2 separate regions of the Homo sapiens genome follow, and region 2 is linked to region 1. Evidence: fine-mapped QTL for protein levels in blood plasma. A gene starts in region 1. The other region holds a variant in brackets. All regions are shown on one strand. Distances are between the middles of the regions.

Evidence for each region. PIP is the posterior inclusion probability: the model's chance that the variant is causal. Protein levels are from antibody-based Olink assays in UK Biobank. Linkage for the fine-mapping came from a reference panel and not from the study's own genotypes, which makes the PIPs less certain.
Region 2: its variant is fine-mapped to the plasma level of the EDA2R protein (UK Biobank, PIP 0.96).

What each region holds. Positions count from the first base shown.
Region 1 is chrX:66,638,600-66,649,135 of GRCh38, forward strand. It overlaps EDA2R (ectodysplasin A2 receptor), which reads right to left and starts at 479. Exons shown (of 7, transcript NM_021783.5): 1 at 396-479. RefSeq lists an enhancer at 1-299.
Region 2 is chrX:66,729,568-66,740,103 of GRCh38, forward strand. No RefSeq gene overlaps it. Among named protein-coding and RNA genes, the nearest start is that of EDA2R, 96 kb to the left of the region's middle. The variant C/T (reference allele first, on the strand shown) is at 4,886.

The sequences.
Region 1 (10,536 bases):
GCAGTTCTGCTTTCCTCAGGATGCTCCACAAGTCTGATCCACTGTCCCCGCCTTCACTAACACCCAGCCTCCTTCTCTTCTTTATCTCCCAACCCTAGATGCTCAAGGTTGTTGGACACGTCCAGGCATGTTCTCAGAGGCAATGCAGGTCCAGTAAGAGCCTACAGGAAATGGCTCGCCAAGATCCTAGAGATGTCAGCCCAGATCCCTGATACCTCAGAAAGCGCTCTCCGGACACAAATGGATGGACTGACAGCCAGCCACAGGGCGCCTTCCCAATTGTTCTGATTTTGCGGTACCCTAGCAGGATCATCCTGACCTGATTCTGTACTTCTGCACCTAGATGCCGCAGGTCCCAGCCGCCTTGCCACACCAGGGGGTGTTCCCACACTCACCCGGTAACGGACGAGTAGATGGCTCTTGCTCCCAAATGGGACTCCGGTACAAATCCACCTCAGCGCAGAGCACACATCTCACCCAGCCCCCTCCCGTCACCCCCCGCCCTTCACCCCGCGCCCCTCAGCCCCCGCCCCTCAGACCCGCCCATCAGCCCCGCCCCTCAGCCCCCGCCCCTCAGCCCCCAGCCTGCATACACACTCACAGTATATGAAATTCCTTGTAATCAAAGTTCCGCTTGACTCATTTCACATCCACGTGTAGCAACAACAGCCCAAACCCTCCTTTCACGGTAAGCTTACCTCTTCCGCCCCCGTGAAGTTCCTAGAGCAGCTATTGGACTGTTTGAGTGCCTAGGCGTGGCTACGAAAAGAAACTGCCTTTGAGAGGAACAATGTGAGGCTGAAGAACAGTGACCCAGCCACTGGTATGGCAGGAGCTGCAAATCTCCTGGGACTGAAGCGGGGGCCAGAGAGTAGAGGGCCAGGGAGTGGGGTCCAGAGAAAGCATCAAGTTGTCTCTTTCACAGCTGAATGCAGCTCAGCTCATCAAAGTTTATTCATGACTTAGCAGGCTTGGAGTTTGACAGGGAAAATTATTGTTGGAAAAGCCAAAATTTTCAGACACATGGAGAAGCCGCTTTCCAGCTCTGCATCTGCCTCAAAAAAATACTCCTCCATTCAGAAGGGTAGATAGGATTGTGACAGGAGGAAGAGAGCAGACATGAAGCAGGGAAAAGACCACTAAAAATAAAGGAAAATTGGATTCGGCACTCAGCTTTGATCATCCATCTTCTCTGGGCCCCTGAGTGTCTGTACAAGGAGGGGGTTGAGCTACGTAGTCTCTAAGGGCACTTCAAACAATGACACTTTGGGAGTTTATTAATCCATGATCTCAGAGGCAGCGGTGGATAAATCCCGAAACGTTACTAGTCCCTGACCTTGAAGAGTTTGCAGAGCTGGGAAGATAAAGTAGACCGGACAGAGACAGAGAATTAAGGGCCAAACTATGAGGTGCAGACTGGAAGGGTTTGGGGGCCAGTAGGAAGAAGGAGTAAAAAAGAGTCTGACAAGGAAAGCAAATGCTTTTCAATAGATTAGGAGCTTTTAAAAGAGGTCAAAGAGGAAATAGCCTAATGGGTAGAGGAAAAGAAAAGCTTGAGCCAAGGTATGGGGGAGAGGACCAAGAAATGAGCCATTATCAGTCTCTGAGGGACCCCTCCTGTACTGGGCAGAGGCTATATGCCAGCTCAGGGTGGAGTCTCAGTAAAGCAGCTGAAAAGCCTTTGGTGGGAAAGGGCTGAATAGGCCCTAAGCTGAAGTAGAAAAAGTCCTAAATGAACTTCATATCTGTCCCCTAGCTAGAGTTAAGACCAGAATAGGCTACTGTGGGCTCAGGCCTAGTAGAAGGGAAAACTGCCAGAATTGGAATCCTAGGTCTGCCCCTTACTAGCTTTGTGACCTAAGGCAAGTTACTTAACCACTCTGTGGCTCAGGATTCTCTTCTGTAAAGTGGGGAAAATAACAATCCCTTACTCATAGGATTGTTTTAGGTATTATATGAGTTAATATACAAAATAGTGTTCATATGCGTAAGGAGCTTAGAATGATTTCTGGGACGTAGTGGTATAGAAGTGTTTATTAAATATAAATAAATACATGAATGCAATTTAGGGACCTCTGAAATCATCTGTGAGATTCAAATGAAAATAGCTACCCTGGGTACCTCCTAATTCTGTTCTGTCCTTTCCTAGAAAACAGGACCTCTTCTTTTTCTCCATCCTTTCCTACCCAGAGAAGCTGAATTACAGACAGTTTTGAAACTTTAGTGTAAAGAACCCTAGCTTGGAATTTAGATGTCTTGACAAAACTAAGTGTAACATCATGTAAATCTCTTCCTCTCTCTTAGTTTTCCTTTCTGCATCTGTATCCTGAAGAGACTGTTGGACTGGATGACCTTGAAACGCTAGAGCCGTGCTTCTCTCATATTAATGTGCACACAAATCACCTAAGGATCTTGTTAAAACACAGATTCTGAGTTAGCAGCTGTGGTGTGGGACTAAGACTCTGATTTTCTAACTGCTTCCAGGTGATATTGATGGTGCTGGGCCACAGACCATAGTTTTAGTAGCAAAGGTTTAGAAGGTGGACAAGAATAACATTTACTGAGCACCTATAAATCATGCATATGTGTCCCTTTATACCTTACAACCATTCTATGAGGTTGAGGTTACCATCCTCATTTTGTAGATGAAGAGGCTCCTTGTACTCTGTGATTCTGCCTGGAAGTACAGGAGGAAACTTGAGATAGAGGTACCAGGGATATGTCAGAGTCCACAAGCTATTGTGGAAAGTGATTATAAGCAGCAAATATGAAACCACTGTCCTCCACCATAACTTGTCCAATAATACTATAACAGTTAGCTGGCCCTCACTAAGCACTTGCCAGGCACTGCTCAAATTTTTTTCATGAATTAATTCATTTTATCTTCATAATCTATGAAGCCACAATCATTAGAATTATCCTCCCCTCTCCTTTTGCTCACACCTCACATTCAACCCATCAGCACATCCTATCAGCTCTGCCTCCTGCCTCAGAGATAAACTCTGAATTTCACCAACTTCTTAGCACCTTCACTGCAACCACTCTGGTGCAAGCCACGATTACTTTTCACCTGAATTATTGCCATATCCTCCAATAGCTCTCCTTGCTCTCATGCTTACCCCACTCCAGTCAATTCTCAGCAGAGCAACCAGAATGATCCTTTTAAAAGTACATCAGTCTAAGTCTGTCCAAGCAATTCTACTGGTTGGCTTCTTATTCAGCAGAAAACCCAAAATCCTTAACTATGGTCTATAATAGTCTACAATCTATCCCACGCCATCCCATCCTCACTAACCTGCCCCTCTATCTCTGATCTCACCTCTTACCACTCGCCTTGACCACCATACCCAACCCCAACTGGCGGCCTTGATATTTTTTCCAACACTCAAAGCATGCTCAAGACTCTGGTCTTTGCACTTGCTGCTCCTTCAGCCTAGCCAATTCTTCCCCCAGATATCAGCATGGCTCCTTTTCTCACTTCCTCCATATCCCTGCTTAAATGTCACTTTATCAAAGTGGACTTTCTTGAATACCCTAGCTAGTACAAGCTAATGGGATTGCCTAGGCCTTTTGAAATCCACTGGGTAGGTGAGCTTTTTCTCAACATAGCCCCAGGACCCCCGGTGCAGTGTGGTGGTGAGTAGGGTTAAGGCTCTCAACTCTGCTCTCTGTGGGGGAGCCACTCTAGCTCCATGTGCTTGTGCAGCAGAACTAAGTTTGGATCAGCTAATTTCTTGGGGGCTTTCCACAGCCCCTCCTTTTATGATAAACAGGAGTCACTTTGTGAACCCAAACTGAGAACTATCAGTACAGAGTTTCTCTACCTACATTCTACTGCTGGAACCAGCCTAACCTGACAGCAGGATAGGCAGGACCAGCCTCCACTCTGCTTATCTCTGGGACCAGACAGATTCTGGGGCTCAGTGAGATTCAGGGCTCTCTGATGCCACCCCTCAGCTCTCTCTCAGAGGTTACTTAGGGTCACTCAGGGGAATACTGGCCTTGGCTGTGTCTCAGAGAATCCTGGGTAGCCTCTAATTCTAGTGTCCAACAATGGCAGGACCACCTTTCATGAAGGAGCTTCATGGTTATCCAGGCAGAATGGGGCCCTTATAGCTCCTCTCAAGACTGGGACCAGGGGGCAGGAAAAGAAGCTGAAAGACTAAGGGGATGCTGAGGCCTGTGGGGCAACCCCTGTAAACTCAAACATTGCTAAGGATGTCCCTGAACACAATATCAGCTTCTTGTTCTCTTTAGCCTGTGAGATGTGTGTAGATAAACTTGGCCATAAATGTTTGCTGCAGTGGTGTATACAGGCTTAGGTCTTCTGAATTAGAAAGCTGGGGTATAAGAGTTACTTCTAGCCATGGGAATTTTCAAACTTCAGCTAGATTCTAGCACAGTCCAATAGTGTTATCTCTCATTTTAAATAATCTTCTATTCCACTTGCCCAAGATGGCTTTTAAAACTCACTCTTCTTAAGTCAAGTGCTCAACACAGCTCCCAAACCCCTAGCAGATGACTTCACCTCCAGTTTCACCGAGAATGTAAAAGGGCACGAAACTTGAAGTCTAAACAACTTCTGACATCTCCACATTCAAGTTCATCCTGTTTCTTACCTCAGAGTTTCCTCCTGTCCCTCCTGTCTCCATCTGTGTTTACTCCTGTCTATTCCATTTTGCTTTATTTGTATCTTCATGGTCTTTCTTCCTCTGGCTCTTTCTCCTAAATTGTCTTTCCATTCTGAACTAAGATTAATTCTTTTCATATCCTCACCTCCACCTCTTCATTTCCAAACTCACTACATTTTGCTCTTCTCAAGGTCACCCATGATTTTCATACTATCAAACCCATGGATTCTTCTGTTTTCTTATTTGAATTATCTAAAACATCCAACATTGTCTGGATTCTTTTCTTTCTGACTCTCTTCCCTTGACTTTCATGGAACTAATGTCTTCTAGTTTCACTTATTTCTCTACAGCATTTTATGGATTCTCATTCTCCACTTGCCCCTCAAGTGCAGGGATTTTACAGAGTTCCTCCCACCCTCCATTGTCCCTCTGGCCTGATTCTAACTTCTCTCACTGGAGTGTGAACCTATGTGGCAGGGACCTTATATACCATTTCACAAATTTCCACATGCAAAACTGTACCTAGAGTATTTTAAGCGCTCAATACATTTTTACATATTATATATATCAATATATCTGTTGAATAAGCCCAAGGAGAAAAATGTTCACATTTGAATGTATCCTTCTATAATGAGCTCCCAGGCCTCAGGTGTGCCACAATAAAAATAAGATGGCTAAAAAGGAATTGAAACCCACACCCAAAATAATAATAATAGCCAACACTTGATCAATGCTTGATGAACTCTATATGTCAGGCCCTATGCCAAATGTTCTGTATGCAATAGCTCATTTAATCATCACAATAATCCTATGAGGCAAAAACCATGACATCACTCCTATTTTATAGATGACAAAATTGAGGCACAGAAACGATAGGTGACTTATCTATGCCATCTATCAGTGCCACAACCAATAAGTGGCAATTGACCCAGGATTCTCAAGAATAGCTGATGCCTTAATTATTCACTGTCACACTCAAATGTACAATCCTTGCTTTCCCTTCCAATCAGAGGCTCCTTCCATCCTCTCTGAAGAGCTATTCTAAACCTCTACCTTTAGAAGTAAAGGTTAAGTTCCTACTTTAGCACTGAATTCTTAGCCCAGAAACATTGACTCTTTTCTTCTTCATCAATAAAACAGATTCTATTAGGCATTTAGTGCCTATAACTTCTTCCCTAATTCCTATAAGGTTCTCTCTGTCTTCATTCATCTTGGCCTTTCCTCTTGAAGAAGAGGAGAGAATGCCTCCCCTGATATTTATGAATCTTTCTCCATCAATTACCCCCACTCTCTATGGCATCATTATTTACCTGTCTTCTGTGCCTACCCCTTTAACTCGTAAACATATTTGAATTCCTCCCACTACAAAATAAAATCAACCCTTCTACCACATTTCCTCTTTCTCAAACAACAGCCTCGTCTCATTTTTTTTCTTAGCCAAATTTCTGGATAGAGTTTTCTCTAATAACTGTTTCCATGACTTTAATTTCCATTAGCTCCCCAACCTACTATAATCTGGCTTCTAGCCCCATTTGTTCTCCCTAAAGCTACAGGGGACCACTTAACTGCCAAATTTTAGGAAACATTTTCTCTCATCTTTTTTTTTCTTTTTTTTATTATACTTTAAGTTTCAGGGTACATGTGCACAACATGCAGGTTTGTTACATATGTATACATGTGCCATGTTGGTGTGCTGCACCCATTAACTCATCATTTACATTAGGTGTATCTCCTAATGCTATCCCTCCCTCCTTCCCCCACCCCACAACAGGCCCCGGGTGTGATGTTCCCCTTCCCGTGTCCAAGTGTTCTCATTGTTCAATTCCCACCTATGAGTGAGAACACGTGGTGTTTGGTTTTTTGTCCTTGCGATAGTTTGCTAAGAATGATGGTTTCCAGCTTCATCCATGTCCCTACAAAGGACATGAACTCATCATTTTTTATGGCTGCATAGTATTCCATGGTGTATATGTGCCACATTTTCTTAATCCAGTCTATCATTGTTGGACATTTGGGTTGGTTCCAAGCCTTTGCTACTGTGAATAGTGCTGCAATAAACATACGTGTGCATGTGTCTTTATAGCAGCATGATTTATGCACCTTTGGGTATACATGCAGTAATGGGATGGCTGGGTCAAATGGTATTTCTGGTACTAGATCCCGGAGGAATAGCCACACTGACTTTCACAATGGTTGAACTACTTTACAGTCCCACCAACAGTGTAAAAGTGTCCCCATTTCTCCACATCCTCTCCAGCACCTGTTGTTTCCTAACTTTTTAGTGATCGCCCTTCTAACTGGTGTGAGATGGTATCTCATTGTGGTTTTGATTTGCATTTCTCTGATGGCCAGTGATGATGAGCATTTTTTCATGCCTCTGTTGGCTGCATAAATGTCTTCTTTTCAGAAATGTCTATTCATATCCTTCGCCCATTGTTGATGGGGTTGTCTGATTTTTCTTGTAAATTTGTTTGAGTTCATTGTAGATTCTGGATATTAGGCCTTTGTCAGATGAGTAGATTGCAAAAATTTTCTCCCATTCTGTAGGTTGCCTGTTCACTCTGATGGAAGTTGCTTTTGCTGTGCAGAAGCTCTTTAGTTTAATTATATCCCATTTGTCAAATTTGGCTTTTGTTGCCATTGCTTTTGGTGTTTTAGACATGAAGTCCTTGTCCATGCCTATGTCCTGAATGGTATTGCCTAGGTTTTCTTCTAGGGTTTTTATGGTTTTAGGTTTAACATTTAAGTCTTTAATCCGTCTTGAATTAATTTTTGTATAAGGTGTAAGGAAGAGGTCCAGTTTCAGCTTTCCACATATGGCTAGCCAGTTTTCCCAGCACCATTTATTAAACAGGGAATCCTTTCCCCATTTCTTGTTTTTATCAGGTTTGTCAAAGATCAGATAATTATAGATGTGTCGTATTATTTCTGAGGGCTCTGTTCTATTCCATTGGTCTATATCTCTGTTTTGGTACCAGTACCATGCTGTTTTGGTTACTGTAGCCTTGTAGTACAGTTTGAAGTCAGGTAGCATGATGCCTGCAGCTTTCTTCTTTGGCTTAGGATTGACTTGGCAATGTGGGCTCTTTTTTGGTTCCATATGAACTTTAAAGTAGTTTTTTCCAATTCTGTGAAGAAAGTCATTGGTAGCTTGATGGGGATGGCATTGAATCTATGAATTACCTTGGGCAGTATGGCCATTTTCATGATATTGATTCTTTCTATCCATGAGCATGGAATGTTCTTCCATGTGTTTGTATCCTCTTTTATTTCGTTGAGCAGTGGTTTGTAGTTCTCCTTGAAGAGGTCCTTCACATCCCTTGTAAGTTGGATTCCTAGGTATTTTATTCTCTTTGAAGCAATTGTGAATGGGAGTTCACTCATGATTTGGCTCTCTGTTTGTCTGTTATTGGTGTATAAGAATGCTTGTGATTTTTGCACATTGATTTTGTATCCTGAGACTTTGCTGAAGTTGCTTATCAGCTTAAGGAGATTTTGGGCTGAGACAATGGGGTTTTCTAGATATACAATCATGTCATCTGCAAACAGGGACAATTTGACTTCCTCTTTTCCTAATTGAATACCCTTTATTTCCTTCTCCTGCCTAATTGCCCTGGCCAGAACTTCCAACACTATGTTGAATAGGAGTGGTGAGAGAGGGTATCCCTGTCTTGTGCTGATTTTCAAAGGGAATGCTTCCAGTTTTTGCCTATTCAGTATGATATTGGCTGTGGGTTTGTCATAAATAGCTCTTATTATTTTGAGATACATCCCATCAATACCTAATTTATTGAGAGTTTTTAGCATGAAGGGGTGTTGAATTTTGTCAAAGGCCTTTTCTGCATCTATTGAGATAATCATGTGGCTTTTGTCGTTGGTTCTATTTATATGCTGGATTATGTTTATTGATTTGCATATGTTGAACCAGCCTTGCATCCCAGGGATGAAGCCCACTTGACCATGGTGGATAAGCTTTTTGATGTGTTGTTGGATTTGGTTTGCCAGTATTTTATTGAGGATTTTTGCATCAATGTTCATCAAGGAAATTGGTCTAAAATTCTCTTTTTTGGTTTTGTCTCTGACAGGCTTTGGTATCAGGATGATGCTGGCCTCATAAAGTGAGTTAGGGAGGATTCCCTCTTTTTCTATTCATTGGAATAGTTTCAGAAGGAATGGTACCAGCTCCTCTTTGTACCTCTGGTAGAATTCGGCTGTAAATCCATCTGGTCCTGGACTTTTTTTGGTTGGTAAGCTATCAATTATTGCCTCAATTAAGAACCTGTTATTGGTCTATTCAGAGATTCAACTTCTTCCTTGTTTAGTGTTGGGAGGGTGTATGTGTTGAGGAATTTATGCATTTCTTCTAGATTTTATAGTTTATTTGCGTACAGGTATTTATAGTATGCTCTGATGGTAGTTTGTATTTCTGTGGGATCGGTGGTGATCTCCCTTTTATCACTTTTTATTACATCTGTTTGATTCTTCTCGTTTCTTCTTTTTTAGTCCTGCTAGCAGTCTATTAATTTTGTTGATCTTTTCAAAAAACCAGCTCCTGGATTCATTGGTTTCTTTGAAGCTTTTTTTGTGTCTCTATCTCCTTCAGTTCTGCTCTGATCTTAGTTATTTCTTGCCTTCTGCTAGCTTTTGAATGTGTTTCCTCTTGCTTCTCTAGTTCTTTTAATTGTGATGTTAGGGTGTCAATTTTAGATCTTTTCTGCTTTCTCTTGTGGGCATTTAGTGGTATAAATTTCCCTCTACAAACTGCTTTAAATGTGTCCCAGAGATTCTGGTACGTTGTGTCTTTGTTCTCGTTGGTTTCAAAGAACATCTTTATTTCTGCCTTCATTTCGTTATGTACCCAGTAGTCATTCAGGAGCAGGTTGTTCAGTTTCCATGTAGTTGAGCGCCTTTGAGTGTGTTTCTTAATCCTGAGTTCTAGTTTGATTGCACTGTGGTCTGAGAGACAGTTGGTTATAATTTCTGTTCTTTTACATTTGCTGAGGAGTGCTTTACTTCCAACTATGCCGTCAATTTTGGAATAAGTGCGGTGTGGTGCTGAGAAGAATGTATATTCTGTTGATTTGGGTTGCAGAATTCTGTAGATGTCTATGAGGTCCACTTGGTGCAGAGCTGAGTTCAATTCCTGGATATCCTTGTTAACTTTCTGTCTCGTTGGTCTGTCTTTTGTTTAAATTTGGGTGTTAAAGTCTCCCATTATTATTGTGTAGGAGTCTAAGTCTCTTTGTAGGTCTCTAAGGGCTTGCTTTATGAATCTGGGTGCTCCTGTATTGGATGCATATATATTTAAGATAGTTAGCTCTTCTTGTTGAATTTATCCCTTTACCATTGTGTAATGGCCTTCTTTGTCTCTTCTGATCTTTGTTGGTTTAAAGTCTGTTTTATCAGAGACTAGGAATACAACCCCTGCCTTTTTTTTGTTTTCCATTTGCTTGGTAGATCTTCCTCCATCCCTTTATTTTATGCCTATGTGTGTCTCTGCACGTGAGATGGGTTTCCTGAATACAGCACACTGAGGGGTCTTGACTCTTTATCCAATTTGCCAGTCTGTGTCTTTTAATTGGAGGATTTAGCCCATTTGTATTTAAGGTTTATATTGTTATGTGTGAATTTGATCCTGTCATTATGATGTTAGCTGGTTATTTTGCTCGTTAGTTGATGCAGTTTCTTCCTTGCCTCAATGGTCTTTACAATTTGGCGTGTTTTTGCAGTGGCTGGTACCAGTTGTTCCTTTCCATGTTTAGTGCTTCCTTCAGGAGCTCTTTTAGGGCAGGCCTGGTGGTGACAAAATCTCTTAGCATTTGGTTGTCTGTAAAGGATTTTATTTCTCCTTCACTTATGAAGCATAGTTTGGCTGGATATGAAATTCTGGATTGAAAATTTTTTT
Region 2 (10,536 bases), 91 kb after region 1:
GTTTCACATCTTTACCTCTCTAAATCCTTCCTATGTCATCTTAGGCAATGCACTTAACCTGTTTCAGACTCAGTTTCTTTATCTATAAAATGAAGATAACAGCTGTGCTGACTTTTTAATAGACATTCTGACTGGCATAAGATGGTACCTCGTTGTTTTCATTTGCTCTTCTCTGATGATTAGTGATGTTGAGCATGTTTTCCTTTTTTAATTTTACTTTAAGTTCTGGGATACATGTGCAGAATGTGCAGGTTTGTTACACAGGTATACATGTGCCATGGTGGTTTGCTGCACCCATCAACCCATCATCTAGGTTTTAAGCCCCTCATGCATTAGGTATTTGTCCTAATGCTCTCCCTCCTCTTCCCCCACCCCGACAGGCTCCAGTGTGTGATGTTTCCCTCCCTGTTTTCATGTGTTCTCACTGTTCAACTCCCACTTATGAGGGAGAACATGTGGTGTTTGGTTTTCTGCTCCTGTGTTAGTTTGCTGAGAATGATGGTTTCCAGTTTCATCCATGTCCCTGCAAAGGACATGGACTCATCCTTTTTTATGGCTGCATAGTATTGCATGGTGTGTATGTGCCACATTTTCTTTATCCAGTCTATCATTGATGGACATTTGGCTTGGTTCCAAGTCTTTGCTATTGTAAATAGTGTTGCAATAAACATACATGTGCATGTGTCTTTATAGTAGAATGATTTATAATCCTTTGAGTATATACCCAGTAATGGAATTGCTGGGTCAAATGTTATTTCTGGTTCTAGATACTTGAGGAATCACCACACTGTCTTCCACAATGGTTGAATTAATTTACACTCCCGATAACAGTGTAAAAGCGTTCATCCCATTCAAGACATAGGCATGGGCAAAGACTTCATGACTAAAACACCAAAAGCAATAGCAACAAAAGCCAGAATTTACAAATTGGATCTAATTAAACTAAAGAGCTTCTGCACAACAAAAGAAACTATCGTCAGAGTGAACAGGTAACCTACAGAATGGGATAAAATTTTTCCTATGTTTATGTTGGCCACTTATGTGCTTTCTTTTGAAAAATGTCTGTTCATGTATTTTGCCCACTTTTTAATTGGTTATTTGTGTTTGTTTCTTGTTCAGTTGTTTGAGCTCCTTGTAGATTCTGGATATTAGTCTTTTGTTGGATGCCTAATTTGCAAATATGTTATTCTATTCTGTAGGTTGTCTGTTTACTTCATTGATTAAGAAATTCCACAAAGTTTTGCTCTTCGTCTCTCTTTATGTACTTGAATAGACAACATCTATTAGCAGAGTGTGTGTCAGAGACAGCCCTTAGCACACTTATAAGGTTTATCTCATTGACTCTTTTCAGCATCTCTCTGAAGCATGTACTATTATTATCTCTATTTTACAGGTGAGAAAACCGATGGACAGAGAAATGAGGTAACTTGACTAACATCACACAGCTGGCAAAGAGCAGAGCTTCAATAGGAACTCAGGCAGTCTAATTCCAGAGGCCATACTCTTTTAGCCCATACATTTGTGTTGTTTTGCTTTGTGACTAAAAGCCAGACTCTAGATCTAGTTTTTCTGCTGAGTTCAAATTCCAGCATTACCACTTTCTAGTTGTGTGACTTTGGGCAAGTGACTTCACCTCTCTAAGCCTCAGTTTCCTCATTTGTGAAATGGAAGAACAATAGTAAGGCTGATGTGAAGATTAAATGAGTTATTTATGTAAAATACTTACAATAATGTTTGAAACCAGGTAAGTAGTATGTAAATGTCTCAGTTCCCCAGGCAAGATTGGTGGGAAATCAAAAGTCAGTCTTTTTTTTTTTTTTTTTCCTTGCAGCTTTCTAACATTACACAGAACTGCCAGGCTTAAACCAGGTTTAAGTAGTCCAGAAAAAAAAAATGGGTTATGTAGTCTTCAGCAGTCCCTCATGGCTGCCTTCTGGTGCTCACTGGTCATGTCCCAAGTGGTCCATTTCAAGGCTTTGTAATCCTTCAGTGCCAAGTCTCTAACAGGAGCTCACAATCTGATTTATTATGCTATACTGCCCCCTTCTGTGGATTATAGGTAATCAGTAACTATAGGGCTTACAGGCTGAGTTTCTCACATGCTTAATAAATGGTAGTGATTTTGTTTTATTAGCTTTAACGCTCACTCCTATTAGCGTGACTCCCAACCCTTAATGTTACCATGAGCAAACTAAAACAGGGAATAAGGGCATCTATCAAGGGCACATAAATAGTAAGTGATGGAAGTCTGGATTTGAATTCAAGCTTTGATAATTCTCACATTCCCAACTTTTAATTTTTATTGTATGTCTCTTTTTTAAATATTTCTGAATATGATCACATATAAGGACTGTCTATTTCCTACTTTAAAATCTTTTTCTCCTTTAGGAAGTCTTCCTGTATTCTGGCATATTATATTGTACTTCTATGTTGACTATTTTTAAGTTGTTTATGGAGGCGTGTATTATCCTCTATTTTTAGGTAGCTGAATAAAAAGAATGAGTTTTCCAATTCCTTGTTGAATTGGTTTCTAGAAAAAATGCCATTTAGTGAGAATATACTAAAATTCAAGAAACTCAGTTAAAAGGAGACTGGAGAAGAGCACTGAGATAAGTAACTCATGGACCCTGGTAAAGTATACTTGATAATAATAGGTGTTTAAAAAAGTCAACATCTCAAGAGCATGATTTATTTCTTATAAAAGATTACATCCCTCACAATCTAGCTCAATGCCTTATTTATAGTAAGAACTCAGGAAATATTTGTTGAATTGCCATTTAGAGTTTGCTGATAGGCTTCAGTCAATTTCAATCAAGTAATAATATATTTCCTCTGGATAGCTAGAAATGAAAATATTCTAATAAGAAAGATTTGCAGGTCATGAAAAATTTAACCTTTTACATGCAGACTTGTATCTTCATATTTTTAATAATAAGAATCACTGCAAAGTTAATAAGACAGTTCTGGGTTTTAATGTAGTAATAATAAATATGTAATGTTATTTGATTTTTCTTATTAAAGTGAGAGTCTTCTATAAGAATAATCATGAGGCATTGATAGAGGTGGAGTCAAAGATGTACATATAGCTTTGTGTGTCACAGCACTGATCAAATAATGAGTCTGAAGCTCATTATTATCATATATCATAACTTATTTTATTTATTAATGGTTTTGCCTCTCTTCTCTAAAAATTGAGAGAGATGTGGTTAAGTATAATATGGAAGACAGTAGCATAATTGTTTTCTATTTTGTAAACTTAATGGGTAAATCAAAAGCCAAGCAGCTGTTTAAAAAGTAATAATTTTATCTTTTAGAAAATCCTTATCAATATCAGATGTAAAGCAGTGTAATGAGAAGACCACTAAACTGGGAGTCAAAAGCATTTTATTCTGGTCCCAGCTCAACTTCTTGTTTGTGTGATCCCCTACTAGTTCCATGCTCTCCTCTCTGACCTTCAGTTTTCTCGTTTGTAAAATGAAGATTACAATGCCCATAAGGTTTTAGTGAGATTCAGTGAAACTGCTTTGTCAAAGTGTTGTACAAATTAGAAATAGTGTTATAGTAAGGCATCGGTAATGTTTTCTTTTTCTTGTCAAGAGTCTTCTAATGCTATCAGTTATTTTAACATCTGTAACATAAGACACCACATCAGTATCATTGTAAGCTTTAATCTACACTTGAATCACACCGGTATTAAGTCAATTGATGATATACAAAGGAGCAGTATCCATCATCACTCCAAAAAATTGTGCTGGTACATATTGGAGAGTGCTTGCTCTTAGCGTCCAAATTTATTTTTGTAAAAAAAAAAAAAACAGACATGCCTATAAACACAACACTAAGTTAAAAATTTCTATACGCCCTAGGTTTAATATGAAAGTCTACAGCCCTTTGCCTGTTTACTTCACTACAATGTAACAGCCTTTTTTCATTTCATAAATATCCTCTCATCTAATTCCACTCTAAATAACAGTGAGTTAGAACTATAATAATTCAAAACAGATTGCAAAGATAAATGCTTGAGAGGATGGAAACCCCATTCTCCATGATGTGCTTAGTTCACACTGTATGCCTGTATCAAAATATCACATTGCCCCATAAATACAAACACCTATTATGTACCCACAAAAATTTAAACAAATACTTAAGAAAACAGATTGCAAAACTAACAGGTGTACACAAGGAATACTAACATTACTATGTAACCATCATACCTTCTGATATCCACAGTATCCTTCCTATACTAACAATTTTGTACAGCTGTCTCTATAATACAAATAATTATAGAAATACAAGTTAATTGTACTTTAACACTGCAATCATGTAGAAAAGAATAAGTCTTTTGGATATTTTGTAGTTCTTTTTTCCTCCAGATGGAGATAGTCTGGTAAGACTCCTTGCTTCATGGTAGTAATCAAGGAAGGAAGTGTAAGAACTAAGACTTAAAGGATTAATTAAACATACATAATTGGAAGAAAAGACACTTCAGGCTGAGAGAGCAGTATATGCAAATGGCAATTTGGAGGGACAAGTAGGAGGGCAGGAAGGGGATTACCAACTCTAAGTTATAGGGGAACTGTGTGATATGAAGTTGAAGAGGTGGAATGGGACAAGGCCATGAGGGCCTCATACGCTATCCAAGGAGTTTGAATTTTATCTTTAAGGTAATGCGGAATCACTAATGTATTTTGAGTTATTAGTGTGTAAAAAAGGTCACTCTGGCTTCTTTGTAGAGATTGGTTAAGGAAAATTGAGAGCAGAGACAGGAAAACAAGATAAAAGGTTGTTGCAGTAACCCAGGCAAGAGATGTCATGTACCTCTACTAACAAAGTGGCAGGATAGGACTGACCAGACTTGGCAACAGTTCAGATGTGGGGGCAGCTC[C/T]CAGGTTTGTGACTTCAATGCCATGCCTTTTATCCAGTACTCATCACCTTTATGCAAATGATCTCCAACTATGTTTCCTGTAGCTTGGTCAAAATAATAGAACAGTCAACTTCAGTCAGCAGATGGCACATTAATCACTTGATTATTTCGGGTGGTTTCTCCATTGAACAACCTCTACCTCAGTGGATTGGCATTTTTTACTTAGCATAATTCCCTGTAGATTCATCAAAATTATCTTATGTAACTATAGTTCATTCCCTCTTATTGCTGAATAGTACTCCATAATTTATGTGTGCAGCACGGTTTGTTTAACCAGTTTGGGGTTATTACCAATGTAGCTAATATGAACCTTTATGTACAGTTTTCTATGTAGATATAAAGTTTCATTTATCTGGGGTAAATATTCAGGAGTCCAAATGCTATGTCATTTGGTAAATATATGCATAGGTTTTCTTTAAGTTTGTTTAACTGCCAGTCAGAGTTGGTTTATTTTTTTATATTCTCACAAGCCATATGGGAAAGATTCAATTTGTATCTTCACCAGCATCTGGTATTGTCATTATGTTTTTACTTTACCTTTACTGTTAGGTGTGTAGTGATATCACAGTAGAATTTTAATTTGCATTTACCTATTGCCCAATTATGCTAAACATATTTTTATGTGTGCATTTTAAAATATTTATTTATTTATTTACTTATTTATTTATTTTATAGAGACAGGGTCTAGCTGTGTCACCCAGGTTGGAGTGCACTGACATGATCATAGCTCACTGCAGCCTCAAATACCTGGGCACAAGCAATCCTTCCACTTCAGCCTCCTAAGTAACTAGTTCTACAGATGCACGCCATCACACCTGGTTAATTTTTTTTAAAAAATGTAGAGATAGGGTCTCTCTTTTTTGCCCAGGCTGGTCTTGAACTCCTGTCCTCAAGTGATCCTCCAACCTCAGCCTCTCAAAGTGCTGGAATTACAGGCATGAGCCACTGCATCTGGCTCATATATTCACTTTTTATCTGTTTATCCTCTTCAATAAAATGTCTCATCATGACTGTTACTCATTTTCTTTAAAATAATATTTTATATATTTTAAATGACATAAATTATACATATTAATGGGGTACATAGTGCCTTTCAGTAGATACAATGTATAGTGATCAAATCAGGATAATTAACATACCCATCACCTCAAGCATTTATCATTGATTTTGGTTGAAAACTTTCAAAATTCTCTCTTCTAGCCATTTAAAAATATGTAATAAATTATTCTTGGCTACAGACACCCTACAGTGCTATAGAACACTAGAATTTATTTCTACTTCTAGGTTAAATTTTGTATCCTTTAATCAATTGCTTCCTATCCCCTCTTCTCACTACACTTTCAGCTTCCAGTAACCACTATTCTACTCTTTACTTCTATGAGATCAACTTTTTTCGGTTCTGCATATGAGAGAAAACATGTATTATTTGTATTTCCCTCCCTGGCTTATTTCATTTAATGTAATGTCCTCCAGGCTCATCCATGTGGTCACCAATGAGAGGATTTCATTCTTTTTAAATGGCTGAATAGTATTCCATTCTGTATATATACCACATTTTTTTCTCTATGCATGTTGATGAATACTTACATTGATTCCATACCTTGGCTTCTATGAACAGTACTGCAGTAAACATGGTGGCATAATATCTCCTTCATATACTGATTTCCTTTACTTTGGGTATATACCCAGTAATGGGATGACTGGATCATATTTTATTTCTATTTTTAGTTTTTTTGAGGAATGGCCATACTGTTACCTATAATTCCTGTTCTAGTTTACATTCCCATGAACAGTATATAAAAGTTCCCTTTTCCTCATATACTCACCAGGAATTGTTAATTTTGGAATTTTTGACAATAGGCATTCTGACTGGAAAAATAAGATATCTCATTGTGGTTTTGACATACATTTCCCTGATGATTAATGATGTTGAAGAGGTTTTTTTTTTTTTCATATATTTGTTGTCCATTTGGATGTCTTCTTTAGAGAAATGTCCATTCAGATTACTTGCCCATTTTAAATTGAATTATTATTATTATTTGCTTTGGAATTGTTTGAGTTCCTTCTATATTCTGGATATGACTACCTTGTTGAATGAATAGTTTGCAAACATTTTCTTTCATTCTTCTCCACTCTAATGATTGTTTTCTTTGTAGTGAAGAAAACTTATAGTTTGATAGAATTCTATTTGTCTATTCTTGTTTTTGTTGCCTGTGCTTTGAGGTCATATTTATAAAATATTCAGGCACGGTGGCTCATACCTGTAATCTCAGCACTATGGGAGACTGAGGCAGGTGGATCACTTGACGTCAGGAGATCGAGACCAGCCTGGCCAATACAGTGACATCCCGTCTTTACTAAAAAATAAAAAATAAAAACAATTAGCTAGGTGTGATGGTACATGCCTGTAAACCCAGCTACTAGGGAGGCTGAGGTAGGAGAATCTCTTGAACCAGGGAGGTTGCAGTGAGCTGAGATTGTGCCTCTGCACTCCAGCCCGGGTGACAGAGTGAGACTCCATCTCAAAAAAAAAAAAAAAAAAAAAATCCCCAGACAAATGACCTGAAGATTTTTGAATTGATTTTTTATAAGGTAAAAGGTAGGTCTAGTTTCATTTTTTCTATGTGTGGATAACCAATTTTTCAGCACCATTTATTGAAGAGACTGTCTTTTTCCTAATGAAGGTTCTTGACACCTTTTTCGAAAGTCATTTAGTAGTAACTACATGGGTTTATTTCTGGGTTCTGTATTTTATTTTGTTGGCCTATGTCTGGTTTTTTTATGACAGTGCTGTGCTGTTGTAGTTACTATAGCTTTATAATATATTTTGATACCTGGTAATGCGATGCCTCCACCTTTGTTTTGTTTTTGTTTGTTTGTTTTTTGTTCAGGATTTCTAAGGCTATTCAGTGTCTTTTGTAGTTTCAAGAAATTTAGAAATGTTTTTCTTCTATTTCTGTGAAGAATGTTATTGGTAGTTTGATAGCGATTGCATTGAATCTGTAGATTGTTTTGGGTAGTATGGTTATTTTAATATGTTATTTCTTCAAGTCCATGAACATAGACTATATTTTCATTTTTTTTCGTACCCTTCAATTTCTTTCATCAGTATTTTACAGTTTGTCTTGTAGAGACCTTTCACCTCCTCAATTAAATTTATTCCTAGGTAATTTTTTTCTAGCTAGTATACATTGAATTGTTTTCCTGATTTCTTTTTCAGTTAATTCCTTTTTGGTGTATAAAATTGATACTGATTTCTGTATGATGATTTTCTATTCTGCAAATTTACTGAATTTGTTTATCAGTTTTAAGAGTTTTTTGGTGTAGTGTTTAGGTTTTCTATATATAAAATTATGCTATCTGCAATGAGTGACAATTTGACTTCCTCCTTTTTCAATTGGATTACCTTTATTTATTTATTTTGCTTAATTGCTCTGGCTAAGACTTTCAATATGATGATTCATAAGAGTAGTAAAAGTTGGCATCCTTGTCTTCCTCCAGTTCTTAGAAGAAAATCTTTGTGGCCTTTACTATGTTGAGATATATTTCTTTTACAACTAATTTGTGAAGTTTTTATAATGAAGGAATGTTGCATTTTATCTATTTTTCTTCATCTATTGAGGTGATCATATGGTTTTTATCCTTCATTCTGTTGATGTTATGTAACATGTTTGTTGATTTGTATATATTGAACTACCTTTACATCACTTGGGTAAATACAACTTGATCATGGTGTATTATCTTTTTGATGTGCTCTTGGATTTGGTTTGCTAGTGTTTTGTTGAGGATTGTTGCATCTATGTTCATCTGAGATATTGGTCTGTAGTTTTTGTTGTTGTTGTTGGGTTCTATCTGGTTCTGGTATAAGGGTTATGCTGGTTTCATAGAATGAGTTTAGAAGTATTTCCCCTTCAATTCTTTGGAACAGTTTAAGAAGAAGTGGTATTCATTCTTCTTTAAAAGTTTGGTGGAATTCAACAATTAAGTAATCTGTCCCTGGGCATTCCTTTCTTGGGAGACCTTTTGTTAATGATTAAATGTCATTAATCATTATGGGACTGTTCAGGTTTTATATCTTTTCTTTGTTCTAACTGGTAAGTTGTATGTATCCAAGAATTTATGCATTTTCTAATTTGTTGGTATATAGTTGTTCATAATAGACTCTAATGATCCTTTGCATTTCTTTCATATCTGTTGGGATGTTTTCTTTTTCATTTCTGATTTTATTTATCTGGGTCTTACCTCTTTTTTCTTAGTCTAGCTAATGGTTTGTTAATTTTGTTTATGCTTTCAAAAACCACAGCTTTTCATTTTGTTGATCTTTTGCATTTTTTAGCCTCAATTTTGTTTATTTCTACTCTGTTTGTAATTGTTTCTTTTCCTCCATTATCTTTTGGTTTGATTTGTTTTTTCTTTCCTAGTTTTTGAGGTGAATTTTTATGTTACTTATTTTAAATCTTTCTACTTTTTTTTTCAACTTTTATTTTAGATTCAGGAAGTACATGTGCAGGTTTGGTACCTGGGTGTATTGTGTGGTGCTGAGTTTTGGAGTAAGAATGGCCCAGTCACCCAGGTAATGAGCATAGTACGCAACAGTTAGTTTTTCAACTCTTGCCCATCTCCCTCCCTCCCACTTCCAGTAGTCTCCATTGTTTATTGTTGCCATCATTACGTTCATCAGTATCCATCGTTTAGCACCCACTTATAAGTGAGAACATGGTTTTATGTTTCTATGCTAATTTGCTTATGATAATGGTCTCCAACTTCATCCATGCTTTGGATGCAGCAAAGGACATGATTTCATCTATTTTTATGGTCCACCTTTGATGAGCACCTAGGGTGATTCTGTGTCTTTTCTGTCATGAATAGTACTGTGATGTACATGAGAATGCATGTGTTTTTTTGGTAAAATTATTTGTTTTCTTTTGGATATATACCCAGTAATGGGAGTGCTGGGTTGAATGGTAGTTCTAAGTTCTTTGAGAAATCTCCAAACTGCTTTTCACGAGGGCTGAACTAATTCATATTCCAACTAACAGTGTGTAATTGTTTCCTTTTCACCACAGCCTCGCCAGCATCTTTTTTTTTTTTACTTTTAAATAATAGCCCCTCTGACTGATGTGAGATGGTATCTCTTTGTGATTTTCATTTGCATTTCTCTGATGATTAGTGATGTGGAGCATTTTTTCATATGTTTGATGGCTACTTGTATATCTTCTTTTGAGAATTGTCCATTCCTGTCTTTGCCCATTTTTTGACAGTGTTATTTAGTTTTTGCTTGTTCAATTGCTTATGTTTCTTATAGATTCTGGATATTAGAACTTTGTCAGATGAAGTTTGTGTCTTTCTACTTTTTTATGTAGGGATTTATTACTGTAAATTTGCCTCTTAATGCTGTTTTTGCTGAATTGTGTAGGATTTGGTATGTTGTGTTTCTATTTTCATTTGTTTCAAATTATTTTTAACTTAAAAATATTTCTTGGCCAGGTACAGTGGCTCACATCTGTAATCCCAGCAAGTTGGGAGCCCAAGGCGGGTGGATCACCTGAGGTCAGGAGTTCAAGACCAGCCTGGCCAACATGGTAAAACCCCATCTCCTGTAATCCCAGCTA